4 linked regions of the Homo sapiens genome follow. The protein of the gene in region 1 interacts with the protein of each later gene in a pairwise test. Each region holds a gene or a part of one and is shown in the gene's direction. Other genes may lie near its edges.

Region 1 (4,829 bases):
TGCCGTGGTGAGTCCGGGCACCTGGGGCTGTGTCCACAGCGGGCGGCTCCGTGGCTGGCAGGGTGTGTGTGGAGGCTGCCTAGGCCCTTGGTCTGTTTTCAGTTCACTAACTTTTGAGTGAGGTCAAACCTTGCCTTCATGCCTGGAGCAGGAAAGCCCCCGAGAAGGGCAGTGTCATGTTGTGCCCAAGACTCCGCTTAGTCGTCCGGCCAGGGCTGCATGCCCCAGGCCTGCGTGGGCTTTGCAGAGGGCAGATGTGTGAGGGGATGCGGCTGCCCAGCGCCCTGTCCGAGTGCTCCCTGAACAATCTTATTTAACATCCATGGCAACCCTACAACCCAGGATTATGACACCCATCTCACAGATGGAGAAGTGGGGCCAGAGAGTGTGACTGGCCCAAGATCACCAGTCATTGTGGGACCTGGCATCAACGCTGGAGGCCCAGTCCCCACACTCTCAGCACCAGTTTGGGGCTGTGAGTCTGACCTCATGGGTCTCCTGACTCTCCCCAAGTGGTCGTCCATTGAAGCATCCAGCCAGGGGTGGGGACGCTGAGGCCAGGTGGATTTTCTTCTTAATGGACTGGATCAGAATGACAGGGTAACAGAATATATTGTTTCATCACATGTTTTTCAGAGCTGTGCATGTGTGCCCTTGCACCAGTCTACGATATAAAACATGCTTCTGACCATGGGTATTGTTAAAAAGTAAGAAGTTTCAGAAAGAGCACTCTTCAGATCTCTAGAACTTAACCTATGAATTATGCAAATCCCAAGGTAGAATGTGGTGACAGATCCTGAGATACCAGCTCTAGTAGCCAAAGCTGTGTCATCCCCTCTTTTTGGAAAGTGTAGGGCAGAGGCTGAGAGAAGACCCACAGATAGGCTTTAGAAATGGGGTTGGTGAAGTGCCTCTTCCCACTCCCAGAAGGAGGGCCCCAGGGGAAAATCCCTCAAAGCCTCACTTGCTGGTCCCCTTGCACAGTCCCCTGCCCTGGGGAAACCACACACTGCCCTCAAGCTCCCAGCCTACAATCGCTCCCCTAAAAAGGGCCCCCTCAGGATCCTGGCATCCCCCCAGGGGTCCCGCGGTGTGGAAACATCTCCCGTGTTGGCCCATCTCCCAACATGGCTGGTTTCCAAGCAGCAGCACAGCCAGGGGGCATCTTGACTGATCTTCCTTCCTGGGGAGGCTGGTGAGCCACCCTCCATCTTCTTCACACAATTCCATCTCATCTCCCTCTCCCAAGACTGCCTCATACCTCCCCCATCCCAGCCAAGCCTTCTCTTTTAACAAACATCAACAAAGTGTCTGACAATAATTTCCATAAAATTGTTGTGAACAAAGGTTGCGAAATGTAGATGGGATGTGGTTAGTGGGTCAGCACTTGATGGAAAAACCCAGCTAGGGGAATGAACACCCCTTCCCGCTGGGCAGGTCTCTAGTTGAGAACCACTAGGCTCTACTGCCTTCTGACTTTCCTCTTTTACCTTTTATCAAAGGCAGCACACAGCCAGAGAGGTGTGCAGTTACAAGCCCACAGCTTGATGGATTTCATACAGCGAACTCCCTGTGTGGATGGTGTCTGGACTAAGAATTAGGGCCAGTTACCAGCGCACAGTCTGATGAATTCTCATAGAGCAAACTCCCCAGTGTAGTTGGCATCTGGACTAAGAATTAGGGCCTGATAAACAACTCCCAGAAATCCCCTCAAGTCCTGTCCCCATCACTGTGCACCCCCACCACCACCCAATTCTGATTTCTAGCACCATGTTCAGTTTTGCCTGCCTTTGAACTTCATATAAGTGGAATTATACAGTGGGTACTCATGTGTGGCTTCTTTCTCTCACCCTTGTGTTTGTGAGACTCACCCAAGTGGCTGGGTGTAGATGTGGGTTGTTTGTTCTCATTACTGTATAGTATTCCCTTGTAGGAATAGACCAACATCTATTTATCCATCCCATGACTGACCATGTTCCCATTTTTTTTTAGTTGAGTTGGATAGACACGAATATGTTCACGCAGACAGGAGCGTTAGAATTGAGAACCAGAGTGTTCTCAGCTGGCAGATGTGCCCAGATAAAACCACCAAGGGGAAATCTGCACGGCGTTCGATGTAAAGTCACACCTTTCAACTCACGGTATCAACTGCATCCGTCTGTGAGAGAGAAAGAAGTTCGTTACTCAGGATTCAATCCCAGACCCGCCCAACCACAGCATGCCCAGTCCAGGGGATACTTGGGTACAGGGAGGCACCTCACACCCTCTCTCACACAGCCTGGTTTTGGAAGCAGCCAGCCTGCCTCACATCCACTGTGTGGCTACTAATTAGGGTCTGTTCCAAGCTGAGCTCCTCCCTCTCTCCTTTGTGGGTGGCGGAGCTGCTTTGCCAAAGGGACCCCAGGGATGGGTGGAAGTCGCCTGGGGCGAGATGGAAATTTCTGGAGAAATCTGGAGGTTTCTAGATTATACAATGGTGGGCAGTGATGGCTACAGTTTAGGGAGAGGGCTTTCTGAAGCCAAAATTTGCCCATTCGTGCCCAGCTCTACGTGTTCCCAGTGGGCCATTTCTTGACCCCACTTGGAAAATGAGTCTCCACTGCTCTTCCTGCTGGGGACTTCCAAGGTGCTTCTGCCAAAGGCTTTCATTGGTCTGGAATGCCCACCTTTTATGGAGGGCTGCCCACTGGTGTCTGACTGCTCCTGCCCAGATACGTTCTCTTAAATGTGTTATTCAATAATTCAGCTTACTCACCGCCTCCAGGCAATGAGGGAAAGGGCTTGGCCAGGTGTAGGGGCAGGAGAGCAGGCACCCTGAGGGCTGGGATTGATGAGCATTTTCAGGAGTCACAGAGGCGTAGCCGCCCTAAATGGACGTCGTGCCTGAGCTGGAAACTCTTGACCCCTAACCAAGGTCACAAAACCAGGTGCAGAGATTGGACTTGGCAGCAGGCAGGCCTTCAGGGAGTAGGGTGATGGGAGCAGACAGTGCCCAGGAGGACACAGCAAGTCCCCAGAAAGCAGGGCCATCGCTCCAAGGGCCACAGTGGCTGACTGGATGGTCCCAACAGTAAGGCCCCTCCTTTAGACAAAAGCTCAAAATCCCTTCTCCCCTTCTCTGTCCCTCACTTCCTATGAAGTCTGGCTCTCTCAGCCACACCTGTGATATTAAGAATCCTAAAACAAAATAATGATAGGGTGAGAATGTCCAGGCAGCATGGAGACTTTCACCAGGGCCAGCAAACCCAGGTATTTACAATCTCTCAACCGAGCTACCAGGACCACAGCTGGAGGGCGCTGGTCTCACTGGTGTTGGGGGAGGAAGTTGTCCCTGGAGAGTTACCTGCCTGAGATGCTTTCATTGGAGGGGTCTTTGAGGACTCCATCTCAAGTCAGCCGAAACCTCAAGCTGAGACGAATGTGATGCTGGGTGATAGTGGAGAGTCTTACCTTCCACACCAGATCCAGGAGACTGTTAGGTCACATGGAGCTCTGTACTGAGAGGATTTGGTGCACACCTGGGCTCAGCAGGGAGGGCGTCCATGTGAGGGTGAGAAGCAATGACAGCCCAAGCTCTCTGGGTCTGGCCCCCCCTACGCCACGTGGGGCTGGATGCAGTGCAGACGCTGTGCCTCGCCCTCCCTACACAAACCCATTAACGGCCATTTCTCTTGGTTCCAGGTGTTCTCCTACATAGCCACTCTGCTCTACGTGGTCCATGCGGTGTTCTCTTTAATCAGATGGAAGTCTTCATAAAGCCGCAGTAGAACTTGAGCTGAAAACCCAGATGGTGTTAACTGGCCGCCCCACTTTCCGGCATAACTTTTTAGAAAACAGAAATGCCCTTGATGGTGGAAAAAAGAAAACAACCACCCCCCCACTGCCCAAAAAAAAAAGCCCTGCCCTGTTGCTCGTGGGTGCTGTGTTTACTCTCCCGTGTGCCTTCGCGTCCGGGTTGGGAGCTTGCTGTGTCTAACCTCCAACTGCTGTGCTGTCTGCTAGGGTCACCTCCTGTTTGTGAAAGGGGACCTTCTTGTTCGGGGGTGGGAAGTGGCGACCGTGACCTGAGAAGGAAAGAAAGATCCTCTGCTGACCCCTGGAGCAGCTCTCGAGAACTACCTGTTGGTATTGTCCACAAGCTCTCCCGAGCGCCCCATCTTGTGCCATGTTTTAAGTCTTCATGGATGTTCTGCATGTCATGGGGACTAAAACTCACCCAACAGATCTTTCCAGAGGTCCATGGTGGAAGACGATAACCCTGTGAAATACTTTATAAAATGTCTTAATGTTCAATACATTTGTTGGGTGTTTTTTGGGTTTGGGTTGAATTCCTCAGCATCAAGAATACCATCAATTCAGCTTTCTTTCTGAGGAATCCTTTGACTTAACCTGAATCTCAAGAGACAGCATCAGGTGGCAGTTCAGACGACGGACACTGTGTGTGCCAGGCCACTGCACTCTCAGAGCCCGGTGCTGGGGAGCCCACCCTCCCAGCTACCTGCCCAGATGGCTTCCCCTCTCTCTGGAAACTGGCCAAGTGCCAGCCAGGGGCAGCTTCTCCTTCCTACAAGACACAACAGTCTGTGCCCCACTAGAACCTCCTTCCACCAAAAGAAAACACGGTGCACAAGTTTTCATTCACTCATTGTGAAGCTCATCAGCGTGTTCCTGGGCAGTCTGCTTTGTTCCCATTGTGTGGATAATACATTATTTTAGAATTTCCTCGGGCCACTCCATAGGAGAGAAAGGAGAGGAAATTACAGAGTGAAAGGAAGTACGGTGACAAGGGGTGAATGCCATGTTTCAAGTCTGAGATGTCTGGGTTGAAA
Region 2 (7,044 bases), on another chromosome or scaffold:
GTTGTTTTTTGGTTGTTTTGTGGTCTTGTCTTCTTTCTTTCCTTCCTTCCTGTCTTCATTTTAGTGAAGGTGATTTTTCTCTGGTGGTATGTTTTAATTTCTTTTTATTTTTTATGTATCTGTTATAGGTTGGGCTTTCTTTATAGGACAGTGAAAACATTTGAAAATTGATAGTGAGGGTTGTTGTTCAAATCAGTGAATATACCAAAAATCATTGAATTGTATACTTTAAATGGGTGAATTGTATGGTATGTGAATTATTTCTTAATACTATTAAAAATATCAAGAACCTTTCTTTTTCTTTTCTTTTTGTTTTCTTTTGAGATGGAGTCTCGCTCTATCGTCGAAGCTGAAGTGCAGTGGTGTGATCTCGACTTGCTGCACCTCCGCCCTCCGGGTTCAACTGATTCTCCTGCTTCAGCCTCCCAACTAGCTGGGACTACAGGCACATGCCACCATGCCCAGCTACTTTTTGTATTTTTCATAGAGACGGGGTTTCACCATATTGGCCAGGCTGGTCTTGAACTCCTGACCTCGTGATCCACCTGCCTTGGCATCCCAAAGTGCTGGGATTACAGGCGTGAGCCACTGTGCCTGGCTTCTCAAGAACCTTTCATATGGCAAAAGATACCATAAACCATATTAAAGAAAACCCAGACTTGGATTAATTATACGTAACATATAAAACTGTTAAAGGCTTAGTACCCAAAACACAAAAGGAATTTCTAAACATCAATAAGAAATAGACTAACACCCTATTAGTAACTTACCAGAGGATTCAGGCAGTTCAGTTAAGATTGGGCCTAAATGGCTGATTAAAAAAGCGGAAAGATGCTTTGTTTCAGGGAGATACCATTTAAAATAATAGAGATATCATTTCACATCTGTCTTTTTGGACCATATTAATATGCCTTAGGAAATCAAGTGTTGGCACAAATCTCATGGAATGGAGCAGGCTCCTTCACTGCTGGGGAAGTGTAAACTGGTTGATCTCCTTGGAGAGTGGTCTGACAATATCAGGTTGAAGACAGGCCCTACTCTGTGACTTTGTTGTACTACAGCCACTCTTGTACCTGTTGCAATGCGCTTGGTGGGTGAAACAGTAACAGGAACCCAGCTAGGCCCCTCAGACTGGAATAACTCAACCACAGAACAATTACATATATACATCAGTGAAATTCAACGAACTAGATCAACAGAGATCAACAGAGATGTCAGAAAAACAATGTTGAGTGAAAGTGGCATGGAAAATGTGTTGCTGTTGATTTTTAGGGGCTGTTGATGCATCTTTTTGTCTCTAAAATTTAAACGCTGATACAGACTTTTTAAAAAATTGCTTTTTGCTAATGTTGTCGCAGTTTGCTCGTGTTTATAAGTGCTCATTGTGTGCCAGCTACTGTTCTAGGGGCCAGGGGCCAGGGCTGTAGCTGTGAACAAGACAGGCAAAATCTCCACTCTCACTGGGCTCATAAATGAGGGATGACAGATAGTAAACAAGTAGGAAAATAATTGTGCTCTTGGTTGATGCTAAACAATATAAAGGAAATAAAGCAGGGGCTGAGGGTGACCAAGGAAGGTGTGCAAAATCTCCGCTCTCGTTGGGCTCATAAATGAGGGATGACAAACAGTAAACAAGTAGGAAAATAATTGTGCTCTTGGTTGATGCTAAACAATATAAAGGAAATAAAGCAGGGGCTGAGGGTGACCAGGGAAGGTGTGCTCTGAGGAGCTGGCTATTAAACAGAGACTTGCATTTTTTTTTTTAATTGAGACAGTCTCATTCTGTCCCTCAGGCTGGAGTGCAGTGGCGTGATCCTGTCTTACTGCAACCTCCACCTCCCAGGTTCAAGTGATTCTCCTGCCTCAGCCTCCCTAGTAGCTGGGATTACAGGTGTGCACCACTATACCTGGCTAATTTTTGTATTTGTAGTAGAGGCGGGGTTTTGCCATGTTGGCCAGGCTGGTCTCGAACTCCTGACCTCAAGTGATCCACCCGCCTCGGCCTCCCAAAGTGCTGGGATTACAAGCATGAGCCACTGCGCCCAGCCATAGATGTGCGTTTTAAGAAGAGCAAACGTGGAAATGTTTGGGGAAAGCATCCAGGCAGATACAAAATTCTTCAGCTACATCATGGTCAAAAATGGCAGGAAGCATTAAATACTTATGAATAAACTTAATAAAAGAAGTGCAAACGTTAACACTGAAAACAGAAAACATTATTCAAATAAGGAAGCTAAATAGATGGAAAGGTCTGCAAGGCTCTTTGACTAGCAGACAACGTTGTTTGTTAAGAGAGCAGCACTCCCCAAAGCGATCCACAGATTCAGTGCAGTCCCTGTCAGTCCCAGCTGATTTCCTTGCAGACATTGACAAGATGATCCTGAAGAATAGCAAGTCCAGTGTGGCCAAAGCCCAGGAGGGAGGAGGGGAAGTGGATGGTGATGCAGTCAGGGAGACTGGCAGGGCTTCTGAGTCCTGAAAACCCTGTGGGCCATGACAGGGAGCTATTGCCGACCTCTCCTAGGTCTGGTAGAAGCCTTAGGAGCTTTTAAGCAGGGCTGGGATGGCTGTGAGCCATATGGCAATGAGCAGGACAGAATGTCGAATAAATAGAATTCAGCTTTTCAGTGGCAGGAAATGAGAGCATCCTCACTTTCTTTCTGTACATGTTGTGTATTTGTGTCACATTACTGACCCACCTAAACCTTTTCTTAAGTGATACGGAAGTAACAGTATTTATTATAGAATATTTAGAAGATTGAGTCTGGGTACGGTGACTCACACTTGCAATCCCAGAACTTTGGGAGGCTGAGGCAGGAGGATTGCTTGAGGCTAGGAGATCAAGACCAGCCTGGGCAACATAGCGAGACCCCATCTCTTAAAAGGTAATAAATTAGCCGGGCACGGTGGCTCACGCCTGTAATCCCAGCACTTTGGGGGGCCAAGGCAGGCAGATTACGAGGTCAGGAGTTCGAGACTAGCCTGGCCAATATGGTGAAACCCCATCTCTACTAAAAATACAAAAATTAGCTGGGTGTGGCGGCACATGCCTGTAGTCTCAGCTACTTGGGAGGCTGACGTGGGAGAATCACTTGAACCCAGGAGGCAGAGGTTGCAGTGAGCCAAGACTACACCATTGCTCCAGCCTGGGTCACAGAGTGAGACTCCGTCTCAAAAAAAAAAAAAAAGAAAAAAAAAAATTAGCCGGGCATAGTGGTACACACCTTTAGTCCTGGCTACTCGGGAGGCTGAGGTGGGAGGATAGCTTAAGCCTAGGAGTTCAAGGCTGCCGTGAGCTATGATCACGCCACTGCACTCTAGCCTGGGTGACAGAACGAGAGACCCTGTTTCTTAAAACACACACACACACACACACACACACACACACACACAATATTTAGAAGATTCAAACTGAAAGAGAATATGTATTCAGGATCCTGCCACTTTGAGGTAATGGCAGTTAACATTTAGTGTTTCTTCCTTCTAGTCTTTTGAATGAAGTTATGATCCGACATTTCTCAAATTCAGTAATGAGTGCCCATCCCACCCAGCTCACCCCCCAACACCTCAAAAGGAAACAAAAGAATCATAGCTTTCCTGTTGGCAAGTCAGTCCTTGAAGCTTCTGATTCATTTCTTTCAGGTGGAGCTGATCAGAATAATGTTCAGCATCAACCCCCTGGAGAACCTGAAGGTGTACATCAGCAGTCGGCCTCCCCTGGTGGTCTTCATGATCAGCGTAAGCGCCATGGCCATAGCTTTCCTGACCCTGGGCTACTTCTTCAAAATCAAGGAGATTAAATCCCCAGAAATGGCAGAGGTATAGTATGCTCTGACTTCTCCCGGGCTGGCTGGTCCTTGTGCAGTGGGGCAACACCCTGTGGCTTGCCATATAGCTTTCTTGGGTTTTGGCCTTTCTCTCCTAGTGAGAAAAATCAGTATTTATTCAGAATTTTCTGTTTTCCATCTCCCCAGGACTCACTTTGTTAGGAAATACCTAGATGGGTATTGTTCGATTTAAATATGCTACCAGTTTCAGTTAGACTATTTTAGCAGTGAAACATGCACTTTGGAGAGTACATTTGTAAAATGATCTGTGTCAAAAAGCTGGAGACCTCACCTCTGTAATATTCCATCTCAAATGGGTTCATTGCTGTTTTAGAAAACTGAACATTTGGTATTTTAAAACCACATATCATCATGGAGTTTTATCAGCTATACTAATGGTTTTTTTCATGAGATAAGAAGGAATCCTAAAGAAATTCAAAAACAGGACCTAATTTCCAAATATATTTGTTTTTTGTTTTTTGAGACGGAGTCTCGCTCCGTCACCTAGTCTGGAGTGCAGTGGCGTACTCTCAGCTCACTGCAACTTCCACCTCCCGGGCTCAAGCGATTCTCCTGCCTCAGCCTCCTGAGTAGCTGGGATTACAGGTGCCTGCCACCACGTCTGGCTAATTTTTGTCTTTTTAGTAGAGACGGGGTTTCGCCACGTTGGCCAGGCTGGTCTCGAACTCCTGACCTCAGGTGATCCACCCATCTCGGCCTCCCCAAGTGCTGGGATTACCGGTGTGAGCCACCGCATCCAGCCTAATTCCTGTCTTTTAGTAGATTCCTTGGGTGCCTTCTCTTATTCTATTTCCTTCTTCTTGGGTTTGTTGGTGGGTGGAGGTGGGGGTGGGAGTGGGGCTGGGAGTGCGTGGTTGCCGCATTGAGTGTGCCTTGCAATGGAGAGGAGAGTTGTGTTCCATGTAATTGAGATCGTAGCTTTCTCTCATGCTCTAGGGCATTCTAGATCTTAAGTGATCTTGGCAAAAGGAACCGCCTACACATGTGAGCTCTTTCTAGCACAGTTCAAGTAACGAGTTTTAGCTATTTCTACCATGTAACCCTTTCAAAGAGTTTATTACTAAGAGACATACTGGCTGGCTTAATTCTCTCTCTTTTCTGACCCTGCCTCAATCTTTAAAGGTTGTGAAAACAGGCTGCCCCCACATCAGGGCTGAAAATGAATATTCTACTCAAAACTAAAGCTGCACAGCCTCCTGCCATTTCTTTCCCGCAGAGCTTGAGTCCATGTTGAGCACTTGGCCAAGGCCAGTGGTTGCACTGAAGCCTGGATAATTAGCCCTTAATAATCCAAATTAGGCCTGGCATTGGCTTTAGCCAGCTGTTCAACGTGGACTCCAGCTCTGTAGGAACGCATTGTTGAGATGCTGCGGAACTTTGGTTATGATTAGTTTCGTGATTTTTGTTTTCAAATGAGGATCCTAGGTTGTAGGAAAGGCAGTGGTGTATGGGAAACATTTGGGGCTGTGAATCAGAACTTAATGCTGATTTTACCTTGAACTAGAATTGGAGAGTCCCTAATTTGCCCTGGGCCTCAGTTTCTTCATGTCTAGGATTATGAAGGACTGAGACTAGAATGTTCATTTTCAACCCTAATGTACTAGAATGGTCAGTTGAGTTTGTAGGTGTTAGGGAAAATGTAATTTGATAGATCCAGTTGCAGTCTTACTAAATGTCACATACAGTTAAACTGATGCTGTAAGGGTAGACTTACTGGGCTGGGTAGGGGTTGCTCAGATGACTTTTTTTTTTTTTTGAGGTGGAGTGTCACTCTGACACCCAGGCTGAGGCTGGACTTCAGTGGCGCGATCTTGGCTCACTTCAGCCTCTGCCCCCCTTCAAACGATTTTCGTGCCTCAGCCTTCCAAGTAGCTGGGATTACAGGCATGCGCCACCATGTCCAGCTAATTTTTGTATTTTTAGTAGAGACAAGGTTTCACCATGTTATCCATGCTGGTCTCGAACTCCTGGCCTCAAGTGATCCACCCTGCTTGGCCTCCCAAAGTGCTGGGATTACAGGCGTGAACTACCGTACCTGGCCTCAGATGGCTTTTTTTTTTTTTTTTTTTGAGACAGAGTCTCACTGTGTCGCCCAGGGTGGAGTGCAGTGGCACGATCTCCTCTCACTGCAACCTCCACCTCCCAGGTTCAAGCGATTCTCCTGCCTCAGCCTCCCAAGTAGGTGGGATTACAGGCACACACCACCACACCCGGCTAATTATTGTATTTTTAGTAGAGACGTGGTTTCACCATGTTGCTCAGGCTGGTCTCGAACTCCTGACCTCAAATGATCCACCCACCTTGGCCTCCCAAAGTGCTGGGATTACAGGTGCGAGCCACCGTACCTGGCCCCTTCCTTTTTGAAATCGTTGCTGCTCTAAGGTGTCATCAAAAGTCCATAAGAAGGGGGGCAGTGTCCCAAATGAGTATTAGTATTCACTGCTGTTTTGTGTTCTAGAGAAAGAGAGCAAGGTGTATGGAATTGACCTTTTGGGACATTATTTTAAGGTGACTTTATTTAAAGAAAAGAATTGTAGTTGCAAAATGAGTTTGGATTAATGCTTTTCTTCAAGCGTTCTTTTCAAGTTTGGTTCTGAGGCTAGATCATTTTCTCTAAGTGTAATATGCTGGATTTTTTAAAAAGATTTTCTTGAATAAATTGATTTGATTTCACAGTTTATTGAGTATCTTGTGCCAGTGAAGAGTTCATATTTTAGGTTGTGAATATAAAAGTGATTAGGAAAGCCACATCATGCTGCCTGTGAAGAGGGTGGTGGCCGAGTTGTCATGATCTTAAATGATCAGCTCTGAATTGTAGTTTGCTGATGTGCTGCGGTGCCACACTGGGGTCTTACCTGTATTCCCGCAGTGGGAGACAGGCGCTGCTTAACACCCATTTCTCTTTCTTTCACTTTCCCAAAGGATTGGAATACTTTTCTGCTACGGTTCAATGATTTGGACTTGTGTGTATCAGAGAATGAAACCCTCAAGCATCTCACAAACGACACCACAACTCCGGAAAGTACAATGACCAGCGGGCAGGCCCGAGCTTCCACCCAGTCCCCCCAGGCCCTGGAGGACTCGGGCCCGGTGAATATCTCAGTCTCAATCACCCTAACCCTGGACCCACTGAAACCCTTCGGAGGGTATTCCCGCAACGTCACCCATCTGTACTCAACCATCTTAGGGCATCAGA
Region 3 (8,008 bases), on another chromosome or scaffold:
GGTGTCTCCTCCACCCTATGAAAATATAAAGATTTTCCCACCTTCCCACTTTTGGGCCTTACCTCTTGTGATGCTCTTCCTCATACCTTTGGATCTGCCATTCTAAAGTGCCTGTGGATACCTGAGCAGCCCGAATGGGTCCCTGACCTCTTACCATGCTCCTGATGCTTTCTAGGCCTGGAACTTCTCCATCTTCCTAAGTCTTATTTGCTTGATTGAAACCTACCTATCTCTCAATATTCATTTCTTCTGGAAGCCTTTACTCCTTAATCTCCACTGTGTCCATTCACATGCTGTACAGAGCTCCACCACAGCAGTGGGACACAAGTATGTTTACTCTTTTCTATTAGTCTTCTGATGCTAGAATGCAATTTCCATCAGGGCAGGGACCATATCTTTTTATCTGGGTATGTCTAGTGCCAAGTGTATTGCCCATCAAGCAGGGGCATTGAATAAAACTCCACTGAGTAACTGAATGCATGGCTTCATGCATGCATGAATTAATGACTGAATGAATAATGATTCTGCTTGGGAATCATATCTTTATGAACTGTGAAAAAGTTATTAGCAGAGTGTGTTAGAAGAGTGAGCAAAAAAAAAAAAAAAAAAGCATGGTAAAACAAGACAGAAAGCCATCAGTGTAATCTCGATCTTGGTTCTTGCTTTTTTCTTCTACTACAACTGATACTCACCAGCCTGCCAGAAAGACACCCACAGAAAGCTGCTGTGGGTGATTCTACTAACGGTTGGTGTAGTTGATGACCCATGGTTCACAGCTCCCCTTGGCCTGAAAAGTCATAACCCATCCACCTTCTGGAAAACCCACACATATACAATTAAAACAGGAAGCAGAAAGCTTTGAACTGAATTTGACCTCTAGACATCCCTCCCCACCTGTTGTTCTCATGGAACCCAGGCAACTTGCCAGGAAGTATTTTCATACACGGAGAGAAGACTGCTCACCACCACAGGTGCTGCTCTGATGTCTTCTATGAGCCTCCCTAAGTCTTTCTGCCTCTCTGCCTCCCCTCAGACACCAAGGCTGGGTTCCCCTCCACCTCCACTGTAGGAATAGTAATACCTTCTTTAGTAAGGATTTACCATAGTTTCCATTGCTACTAAAGGAACTGATAATCTTCATGACGAAGGAAAAAATCGAACTTTGTTAAACTCCAGTCCCCTAGAGATACACTATCTAAAACTTCAACTTACTCTTGGCCTTCTCTGATTCTCTGGGCTTTCACTATCTTCATTATCTTCCATGGAGGTAATGACCACTAGCTTCCAAGCATTTATACCCATTCTGAATTCTCTTTCATGCTATTTGCTCCATGCAGAGCCCTACTGGACTTCTAGATATAATAAATTTAATTGTAAAAAATCTTCTGGGCAGAAGGGCCTGGCTCTGTCTAAATTACATTGGAGAGTGTCTGCATAGACAACATTTGGTCTAGCCAGTTCTGTCCCAGAAGTTCTTCAACAAACAACATCACCTCCATAGAACTCGGAAAGTATCTAGTTACTATCTTGGACAGGAAGTTATTAGGGAAAGCCCCACTCAACAAAGACATATCATGCTGCTCAAGGTAATTATTGTAATTATTAAAACTGCTACTACCACTACTGCCATAACAATGATGATGACCATGACTATGACTACTTCTACTGCCATTTATGTAGCAATTATTATGACAAGTAATTTATATATATTATGACATTTAATTCTCTCATAGTGACCTTGGAACCCCAAGCTCAAAAGATTATATCTAGGGATCTTGGAAGTTAGCCTGTTTCATTTTCTTATTTTCCCACTCTAACTGTCCTAGTAATCAAATTCATCAAGCAGGAAGTGTGATTTGTTTTATTCTGACATATTTTATGAAGACTCTATTTGTCTCTGTCTCAGTTCTGGCATGCCCCAACTTGGCACTGTATTTTGTATTCCATTCAAGACATTGAACACGGTTCACAGAGATGACTCTTGCTCTGCATCTGGCAAAATAGGCTTCAGTATGTTACCACCTGTGGAATCTCCATGTTAAGGGTTTACCTGGTTGATCCAAGAGGCATTTATATGTATGTCTAATGCTGGTTCTTTCTGATACCTGTGACTCCATCCTGTTGGTGGCAAAATATCCTTGCACAAAAAGTATTATCTCTCACTTTGATCAAACCTACAAACATAATTTTATTTCTGCCACTATTGCCTTAATTTTTAAGTTACTTTCCCCACCCCCCACCAAGTGTCTATTAAGCCTCTTAATCTCTGGTCACAGTGCCTACTGTGCATTCAAGTTTAGCTACGCTTCCAGGATATGCCTATTCACTTGTAAATTACTGCCGTCTGTCAAATACAGAGTAGCACCCACATGAAACATGTTAGCCATCTTAGAGGATTTGTTGCCACCTCTGTGGCCCACACACCTCATTACTGCTGCTTTCCACCTGCACCTTTTATACCAACTGTGAATTTTACCTCATATCATTTGGTAACACCTTAAGAAATATTGATTCTTAACTGAAGAGGCCACATTTCCATAGAGGGTATATAGAAATCAGTGAAGGGATATGGATTATTTTGAAAAATCTCCTTGATGTCTATGAAAAACTTGTACCTACCATCAATTTACCATCAACTTTTTCATGATCCTATTTGTACTCCTTTCCTTAATTCCCTCCCATCCACAAAATTTCTATAGCTTCCAGGTTGGTCAGAATGGGAAGGAATTATAGGCCACCTAGAAACCCATTCAGTAGGCAAGATTTGATGATCAGTGACTAGCTTTGGTCCTGGGAAAGAGTAACTTACACTTTCAAACACATACAAACCGTTTGCCTATGCAGAAAGTTAAAGTAGTATTGTTTTCAACACTTTAAGATGAGAGAGGCCATAAAACCTAGTTTCTTATAATGAATCTTTAAAAAGTACGTAAATAGCATATGTTTATTGTAAGAATACTAGAATACACAGATAAGCAAAATAAGGAAAATAAAAATCAGCTTTAATTAGATTTTTTGGATATAATTACAGTAACTCTGTGGTGCGAATTGTCTCAGACACTTTTTATTGGAGAGCAGGGGATAATGTGCAGCAGATAAAGTGCACTCTGCAGCCACTTTTTTCTTTTCTTTTCTTTTCTTTTTTTTTTTTGAGACGGAGTCTTGCTCTGTCACCCAAGCTGGAGTGCAGTGGCACGATCTCGGCTCACTGCAAGCTCTGCCTCCCGGGTTTGTACCATTCTCCTGCCTCAGCCTCCCAAACAGCTGGGACTACAGGCACCTGCCACCACGCCCGGCTAATTTTTTGTATTTTTAGTTGAGATGGGGTTTCACCGTGTTAGCCAGGATGGTCTTGATCTCCTGACCTCGTGATCCGCCCGCCTCAGCCTCCCAAAGTGCTGAGATTACAGGCGTGAGCCACCGCACCCAGCCCACTTTTTTCTTAATCATATATCCTAGACATCTTATCTTGCTATTAAATATTATTCCACAGAATTATTTTAATGGCTGTTTGGTTTTCCACAGCATTTGACACATAACTTATTTTTAACACACATCTCTCCTTGTGATATATTTTTAGTATTTTCTTTTTACATTATTATAAGCAAGGCTTTAATGACCATCACATATAAATATTAGCCTTTCTCAAAGTAAAACTATGATAATAGTGAGAATAAAATGTTAAGTATCCAATTGTTAAAAATTCAATGTTAAGTATTCAGGTAAATGTTAAGTACCTGAACAGGTAACATTGAGTCTATGAATATTTTCAGTCAGTCCCTCATTTATAAGCACCTGTGATTTTTTGGTTTAGAGTTTCATCCTGCATAAGGTTCACTGATGAGACAACATCTACTGGGACTACATCTAATCAAAGTGAGCATGATAATAGGTGTTCACATAACACGCGCTTTGCTTTGTGTGAGATAACTGTATTAGGATCAGCCTGGGGTACAAAAAGCAATGCAGATTAGAAATAGGCAATGTTGTGATTACAGATTAGAAAGATGGCAATGTTTTCAGCAATATAGTGCAAGTGTTTTGAAGTTTAGTAAAATCTCATTCTAGAAAGTCATCGAATGACTACGAAAAATTTTACTTAAGAAATATGAGCTATTGAAACAATGGCCTTATTATTTTATGAACCTTGAGAAGCAATATATCAAGATAATAGGGCACAATGTTTAAGAGCCAGACTGTGACACTGGGCTGCCTGGGTTTGAATCCCAGATCTGTTACTACTAGAAATTGATTAAGCTGATCTTGGTCATTTTACTGGCTGCTATCATCTGAATGTTTGTGTCCTGGCAAAATTCTTATGTTGATACTTAATCCTCAATGCAATAGTAATAAAAGGTACCCACCTTTTATTACATGACCTTTTAGGGGTCATGAGTGTGGAACTCTTATGAAAAGGATTAGTCTCCTTGTAAAAGAGGCTTGAGGGAGCTTGTTTGCTCCTTCCATCATGTGAAGACACATAGAGGACACCATCTATGAGAAACAGGCCCTCATCAGACACTGAATCTACTGGTGCCTTGATCTTAAACTTCCCAGCCTCTTGAACTATGAGTGATAAATTTATGTTGTTTATAAATTTCTCAGTCTAAGGTATTCTTTATAGCAGCCCCAATGGACTAAGACACTTACCTTTACTAGTGCCTCAATTTCCTTATTCATGTGAAAGGGGATAGTGCCAATTCAGAAACTTGCTGAAGGTAATAAATAACTCTGTAAGCATGAGGCACTTAGAACTGTGTCTGACTCATTGCAACCCATATGTAAATGCTAGGTATCATAATGAGGGTCAAGTTACAAAATTTCTCTGGCATTGAGAGGATCAGCTATAATTGTTTTAGCCCTTCCAGGACAAAGATAATGGTTAAACATAGTGGCACTATTCTACTTCCTTTTTTGCTAATTATACAAAACCTATTCTGAAAACCACATTTCATCGCCTGCTCAGAGTCTCCAGTTGGTGACCAAGAGTACATCTCTTTTCAAATAGCTGGATTAGGTCCTCATGCTGCTGTGGTCATTGCTGGTCATCTTTGGTGAGTTCAATAATTTGACTGAGAAGTGAGGTGGCAGCTGAATGAGGTCTACTGCTCCCAAAAGGTTGGAGGTTTTATTGGAGCCCAGGGACTGGTGGGGATGCTCAGGTCCTGCCTGCAGCTTGGGCTTCAAAGGCAGATGCAAAGAAGTAGGCTGAGGACAGTGAATTTGCAGCACATCCATTAAGCATTAAGCACAATGCTTAATGTTCAAGGTGGACCACTTTTCCATTTGCTGGTCATGAATTGCTATTTTGATATCTTAGATCTCATTGAGTAATATAATGTTCTCATAGTAAAATGTTCATAATATTAGCATTTAGCAATGCCCTTCTCCTCCATGAACACCGATTATTCAATTGTTATCTATAAGATTTGGGTTCAGCAGATGCATTGAGACCCTTTGCTAATATTCCTCTGTTTAATCGTGGACAATGAGGGAGATGACAGCTGCTGCTAGAAAATAAGATTCCTGGGTGAGTGCAGTGGCTCATACCTGTAATCCTAGCACTTTGGGAGTCCAAGGCTGGTGGATCACTTGAGGTCAGAGTTCGAGACCACCCCGGCCAACATGGTGAAACCTCATCTCTACTAAAAATACAAAAATTAGCCAGGCGTGGTGGTGGGCACCTGTAATTCCAGCTACTCGGGAAGCTGAGGCAGGAGAATTGCTTGAACCCGGGAGGTGGAGGTTGTGGTGAGCCAAGATCGCACCATTGTACTCCAGCCTGGGTGAGAGAGTAAATAAGATCCCTTTCTCTATGCTGTGTAGGCACTAAATAAATATTTGTTATTGGAATACAAAGGGCTCTAACGTGAAATATGGCCATAGGAAAGAGACTGATTTGTTGATTTCTTGGAACTCTCACAATGTATGTTTCCTGATGAGCCCTTTGTGATCGTGTTGTCATGTCTATCTACCACTTGAAAAGTCAGAGTGTGAGATAGAGTGGTGGGGATGGTGGAAGGAAAATGAAATCAAGGAGAGTCACTAAATATCCAACATGGGTATTCTCGACAATCCCTTTAGTCAAGCATTGGGTTTGCAACTTGCCTTTTGACTACAATGAATGACAGTTAGATGTGTGCTCGAGGGAGATTGAATTGTTAGTAATAAGAGATTAGGGAAATAGAAAAGAAAGGGAAAATGGAAAGAAGTTTTTGAGCAATTTACCAGAGTAATATAAATTTATAAATTATGAGGGCAAATGCTGTGTGCTAATCTCTGGCTTTTGATCTCCTCACAGATGCAGTCACTGAACAGGCAGGTGAGTCCTCCTTGTCTTTGTTGTTCTTGGTCTCTGGCATATCAGTCACCCCACTACCCCAGGATTCTATAGAGGTGGCTCTGGAAAGCCTGTGAAGATGTCCTAATATTACTGCCCTCTAGGCTGACATGTTCTGAGGTCACGCAGCCTGTTTCCAACACCACTTGCATGTCTGGGTGACCAGGTACCACCTAGCCTTCTCAAGACCCCACATGCTTGCCTCTTCCTTAAAAGCCTGGCTTTAAGAAGGGCAATAACATGCAGATTGAAGAAAAGAACAATTTGGAGAGAATTGTTTTCCTGCCCATAGGACTGTAATGCCTCTTTATTGTCTGGCTGAATGCTGAATGTTTTTACAGCTCTGAAAACAGCTATTTATAGAGGAATGTGTCAGAACTACAAACTTCTGCAGGGTCAGAATAAACATGTGTCCTCATTGCTTCTCTAGCTCTAGCTCAGGAATCAGCAAGCTTTTCCTGTAAAAGGCAAGAGAGTAAATAGGCTAAGCTTTTCAGGTGTGTGCCGTAACTACTCAATGCCATTGCTGTGGTAGCAGGAAAACAACCATAGACCATATGTAAACGAATGAGGATGGCTGTGTTCCAATAACATTTTATTTACCAAAACAGTGTTGGCCAGCTCACAGGCCATAATTTGCCAACCCGTGCTCTAGATTTAGTATTTAGTTTTGATTTTTTAAAAATGCATGTATTACTGTTCTAATCATAAAGAGTGAAATAAAGCTAATTTTATTTCACTCTTTCTGAGTTAAATCTGTGCTCAGTGAAGGAAGTCAATGGGAAAAATATTTTATTCTATATACAGAATCTTCACATGAGCCAAGACAAAATCTAAAGAAAGGGAGACTTGTTCCCTTGCCCATTGAATGCTGGCTACCAAGTGGAAGGGGCTCTTTGGGCTCTAAGGAACAGTGTGGGAAAAGCAGATCCTGCTGTCACCTTGAATGGAACAAGAGTGTCCAGGGAGACATTCAGGGGTCCTACCTGGAACTTGCTCAGGAGCAAGTCTGGTCTCTTGCATTCATTCTGTCCCACATAAGGTCCAGGAGTCCCACCCTGTGATACCCATCACTCCACTGTCTGTCTGGATGGAAATTAGAGGAAACCTCGATCAATATTCAGGAGGTTTCTGACCATTAGTGGAATCATGCCAAGACAGCAGGCTCCCTGAAGTGAATCACCTACGACCATTCAGAGAACAGGGCAACAGCCACTTCATTCTCTTTCTTTTCCTTTAGCAAGAGTTTCTCAGAAAACTGAGATGTTCTTCAGAAGTTTGAGATCTTTTCTTTTTAAAAAGAGTAAGAGAGAACTTAGTTCAGCATGATGTACTGGAAAGAGCAGGACTTATATAGCCAGAAAGACCAAATTGAAATCATGGCTTTGCTATATACCTGCTATGTAGGCTGGGCAGTCACTTGGCCTCTGAACCCCAGTCTTGGCTCTGGGGAAAAGTTTCTGGCCTGTTGAGAATTACAATCCCCTGCAAGGTTTGAAAATGCTATTCAGCAGAGCAGCTGAAAAGGTCTTTCTGTCCCCATCCATTGCCTCAATGCAGTCTTCCACCCCATTTCCTCTTTTCAGCCCCACCCATACACTGCACTCACCACCTGGGACTTTGCCCTTGCAAAGCTTTGAATACCATTTGCTTTTAGTTTTTGCTGTT
Region 4 (2,827 bases), on another chromosome or scaffold:
GACAATCTCAGGGAAGTATTTTGCATGTGATGGAAGAATGACCCAAGGTCTTTGGATTGCTAATAATAATACTGTTCTGTGTCAAGCCTGCTTGGCCACAGACCAACTCTGGTATCTTATTTTCAGGTGAATTTTACCGGGAAGGCCGAGATGGGAGGACCGTTTTCCTATGTGTAGTAAGGACACTGTTCTCTCTGTGTGTGCTCTCTACTGGAGGAAAGGGATTCAAAGTCATACTCCATTGATTGGGGCCTGGTCCTGCCTTAGATCTCAGCTTTTGACTTATAGGTTCCCTGGCTTTGGATGTCTTGAGATTTATTTGAAGAATGTATTATTATTATGTGTGTATTTGAAGAATGTATTATTTGATATGTGACAGAAGTGCTGGAATTTCTAAAAGAGAACATTAAGCCACTAAAAACGTTACCAAGCTCCAGCACTTATGTGATGGGTTTGAAAAAACAGAAAGTGGTATGACGCTGTGGGAGGATGAAAATGACAGTGGCAGGGACTGAGAGCTGACAAGCCTTGGCAGCACTTAGGTCGGAAGGGGGAGGGGGGCACCCCAAACAGGACAGTGTAACTCTGCACTCTTCTACTGAGGCTTTAAAAAAAAAAAAACTGACTATTTCCATATTTGCTGTTTGGTAGCTTCTTCTGCACGGTACCTGAGATCCTGGTGCACAACATAGTGATCTTCATGCGGTGCGTCTCTCTTCCCTATCCCGATGGCCTGTCCGGCCATGTGAGCCTACCACCTTTGCTCAGGAGGCCCCTGTGTGACCACAGGGCAGAGGCACCTAGCCCGAGGGGACACCCTGTGCCTCACAGGCACAGATACAGTAGACCCTTGGTGTTCTCTAAACACAGTGTCCACATGCCCTTCACAAATCACCAGTCACCCTGAGCAGTCAAACATTTTCTCCATAAAATGGGTCTAGTTTAACTAAACACTTGATCCCCTCAGAATCCTAATGAGACAGTCATGAACAGAAAAGCTTTCTCAAGATGTTAAGTACTGGGCATTTGACCAGACTTCCTCTCTAGCCACACAAATTACCACATGTCATGGACCTTTAGGGTTGTTTTCTGGAAGCATGGCTGTTAAATTTGCAAGTGACAAGACTCTGCTGCAGACATGAAATATGAGGGGTTAGAGCAGAGTTTCTCAGCCTTGGCACTACGAACATTTTGGGCCAGACCTTTGTTGTAGGGGGCTGTTCTGTGCATTATAGGATGTTTAACAGTATTCCTGGCATCTGCCCACTAGATCCCAGTAGTAAACCCTCCATCCCTTAGTTGTGACAACCCAGAATGTCTTCAGGCATTGCCAGAAGTCTCCTGTGGGGTAAAATCATTCTCGATTGAGAAGCCTTGTTTGGAAGGCCACCTCCTGGCACAGTATCTCTGTGAAAGTGGAAAGATCTTCTGGCCTCCTGGTTACATAACCATGAGGATATGTGCCTGGGGCCCGTGGGTATTGTTCTCTGAACTTGCAAAAAATTTCCTGGGACATTTTTCTGGCTTATTTCATCCCCCAAACATAATTAATTCTTCTTGGTTTTCTTTTCCCTAGAACTTCAGTGAAGATTTCATACATTGGCCTCATGACCCAGAGCTCCTTGGAGACACATCACTATGTGGATTGTGGAGGAAATTCCACAGCTATTTAACAACTGCTATTGGTTCTTCCACACAGCGCCTGTAGAAGAGAGCACAGCATATGTTCCCAAGGCCTGAGTTCTGGACCTACCCCCACGTGGTGTAAGCAGAGGAGGAATTGGTTCACTTAACTCCCAGCAAACATCCTCCTGCCACTTAGGAGGAAACACCTCCCTATGGTACCATTTATGTTTCTCAGAACCAGCAGAATCAGTGCCTAGCCTGTGCCCAGCAAATAGTTGGCACTCAATAAAGATTTGCAGAATTTAATACAGATCTTTTCAGCTGTTCTTAGGGCATTATAAATGGAAATCATAACGTGGTTCTAGGTTATCAAACCATGGAGTGATGTGGAGCTAGGATTGTGAGTGACCTGCAGGCCATTATCAGTGCCTCATCTGTGCAGAAGTGGCAGCAGAGAGGGACCATCCAAATACCTAAGAGAAAACAGACCTAGTCAGGATATGAATTTGTTTCAGCTGTTCCCAAAGGCCTGGGAGCTTTTTGAAAAGAAAGAAAAAAGTGTGTTGGCTTTTTTTTTTTTTAGAAAGTTAGAATTGTTTTTACCAAGAGTCTATGTGGGGCTTGATTCACCCTTCATCCATTGGCTGGAACATGGATTGGGGATTTGATAGAAAAATAAACCCTGCTTTTGATTCATCTGTGTCTCCTCTGATTGCCTGGGTGTTTTGTAGGGATCTCTGGGGGAACCGTAGAATAGTTCCCTTCCAAGTGGGTCAGGATGGAATAGGAGGAAAGAGACTGCACCCTGATTGTACTCCCGTTCCCATGAGTTCCTGTCACAGCAAGCAGCCTCATTTTCTTCCATCTGCCTCTTGCGGCAGGGGGCTACCCTGTTCCCTTCCAGGACAGAGCACTCAGTGCCCCATGGAGGTTGGAATTCAGTCTTGAATAAGACATCCTGGTTTGAGGTTGTAAGTTTCTTGGGTCATCTCCACCTGCTCTGCCACCAGAGGTTAGGCTACAGCCCCAGGATGGCAGAGAATCTAGTTAAGAAGCTTGAGTAGTCAGGTGTTAGAAGTCAGCTCTTCCCATAGCACTGGGACCTCAGGAAACCCTAACAACAACAGGTGGTGGCTGGGGTTGTATATTAGTTTTTGTCTCCATTCCCATAGCTTGGTTTTCAATATTTGCTTAATGATCT

Evidence for each region.
Region 2: the proteins of MAL (region 1) and TMEM248 interact in binary tests that used the Homo sapiens proteins (3 or more experiments, as listed by UniProt).
Region 3: the proteins of MAL (region 1) and FCRL2 interact in binary tests that used the Homo sapiens proteins (3 or more experiments, as listed by UniProt).
Region 4: the proteins of MAL (region 1) and TMEM106C interact in binary tests that used the Homo sapiens proteins (3 or more experiments, as listed by UniProt).

What each region holds. Positions count from the first base shown.
Region 1 is NC_000002.12:95,049,700-95,054,528, forward strand, and holds the end of MAL (myelin and lymphocyte protein), read left to right. Parts: coding exon 1-7; intron 8-3,681; coding exon 3,682-3,756; 3' UTR 3,757-4,293; downstream 4,294-4,829. UniProt on the Homo sapiens protein: May be involved in vesicular trafficking from the Golgi apparatus to the cell membrane. Plays a role in the maintenance of the myelin sheath, and in axon-glia and glia-glia interactions.
Region 2 is NC_000007.14:66,938,206-66,945,249, forward strand, and holds part of TMEM248 (transmembrane protein 248), read left to right. Parts: intron 1-3,642; coding exon of another isoform or gene 3,643-3,660; coding exon 3,661-3,819; intron 3,820-6,770; coding exon 6,771-7,044.
Region 3 is NC_000001.11:157,774,089-157,782,096, reverse strand, and holds the start of FCRL2 (Fc receptor-like protein 2 isoform 1 precursor), read left to right. Parts: upstream 1-4,964; 5' UTR 4,965-5,023; coding exon 5,024-5,054; intron 5,055-6,301; coding exon 6,302-6,322; intron 6,323-8,008. UniProt on the Homo sapiens protein: May have an regulatory role in normal and neoplastic B cell development.
Region 4 is NC_000012.12:47,966,557-47,969,383, forward strand, and holds the end of TMEM106C (transmembrane protein 106C), read left to right. Parts: intron 1-126; coding exon 127-176; intron 177-651; coding exon 652-705; intron 706-1,576; coding exon 1,577-1,673; 3' UTR 1,674-2,322; downstream 2,323-2,827.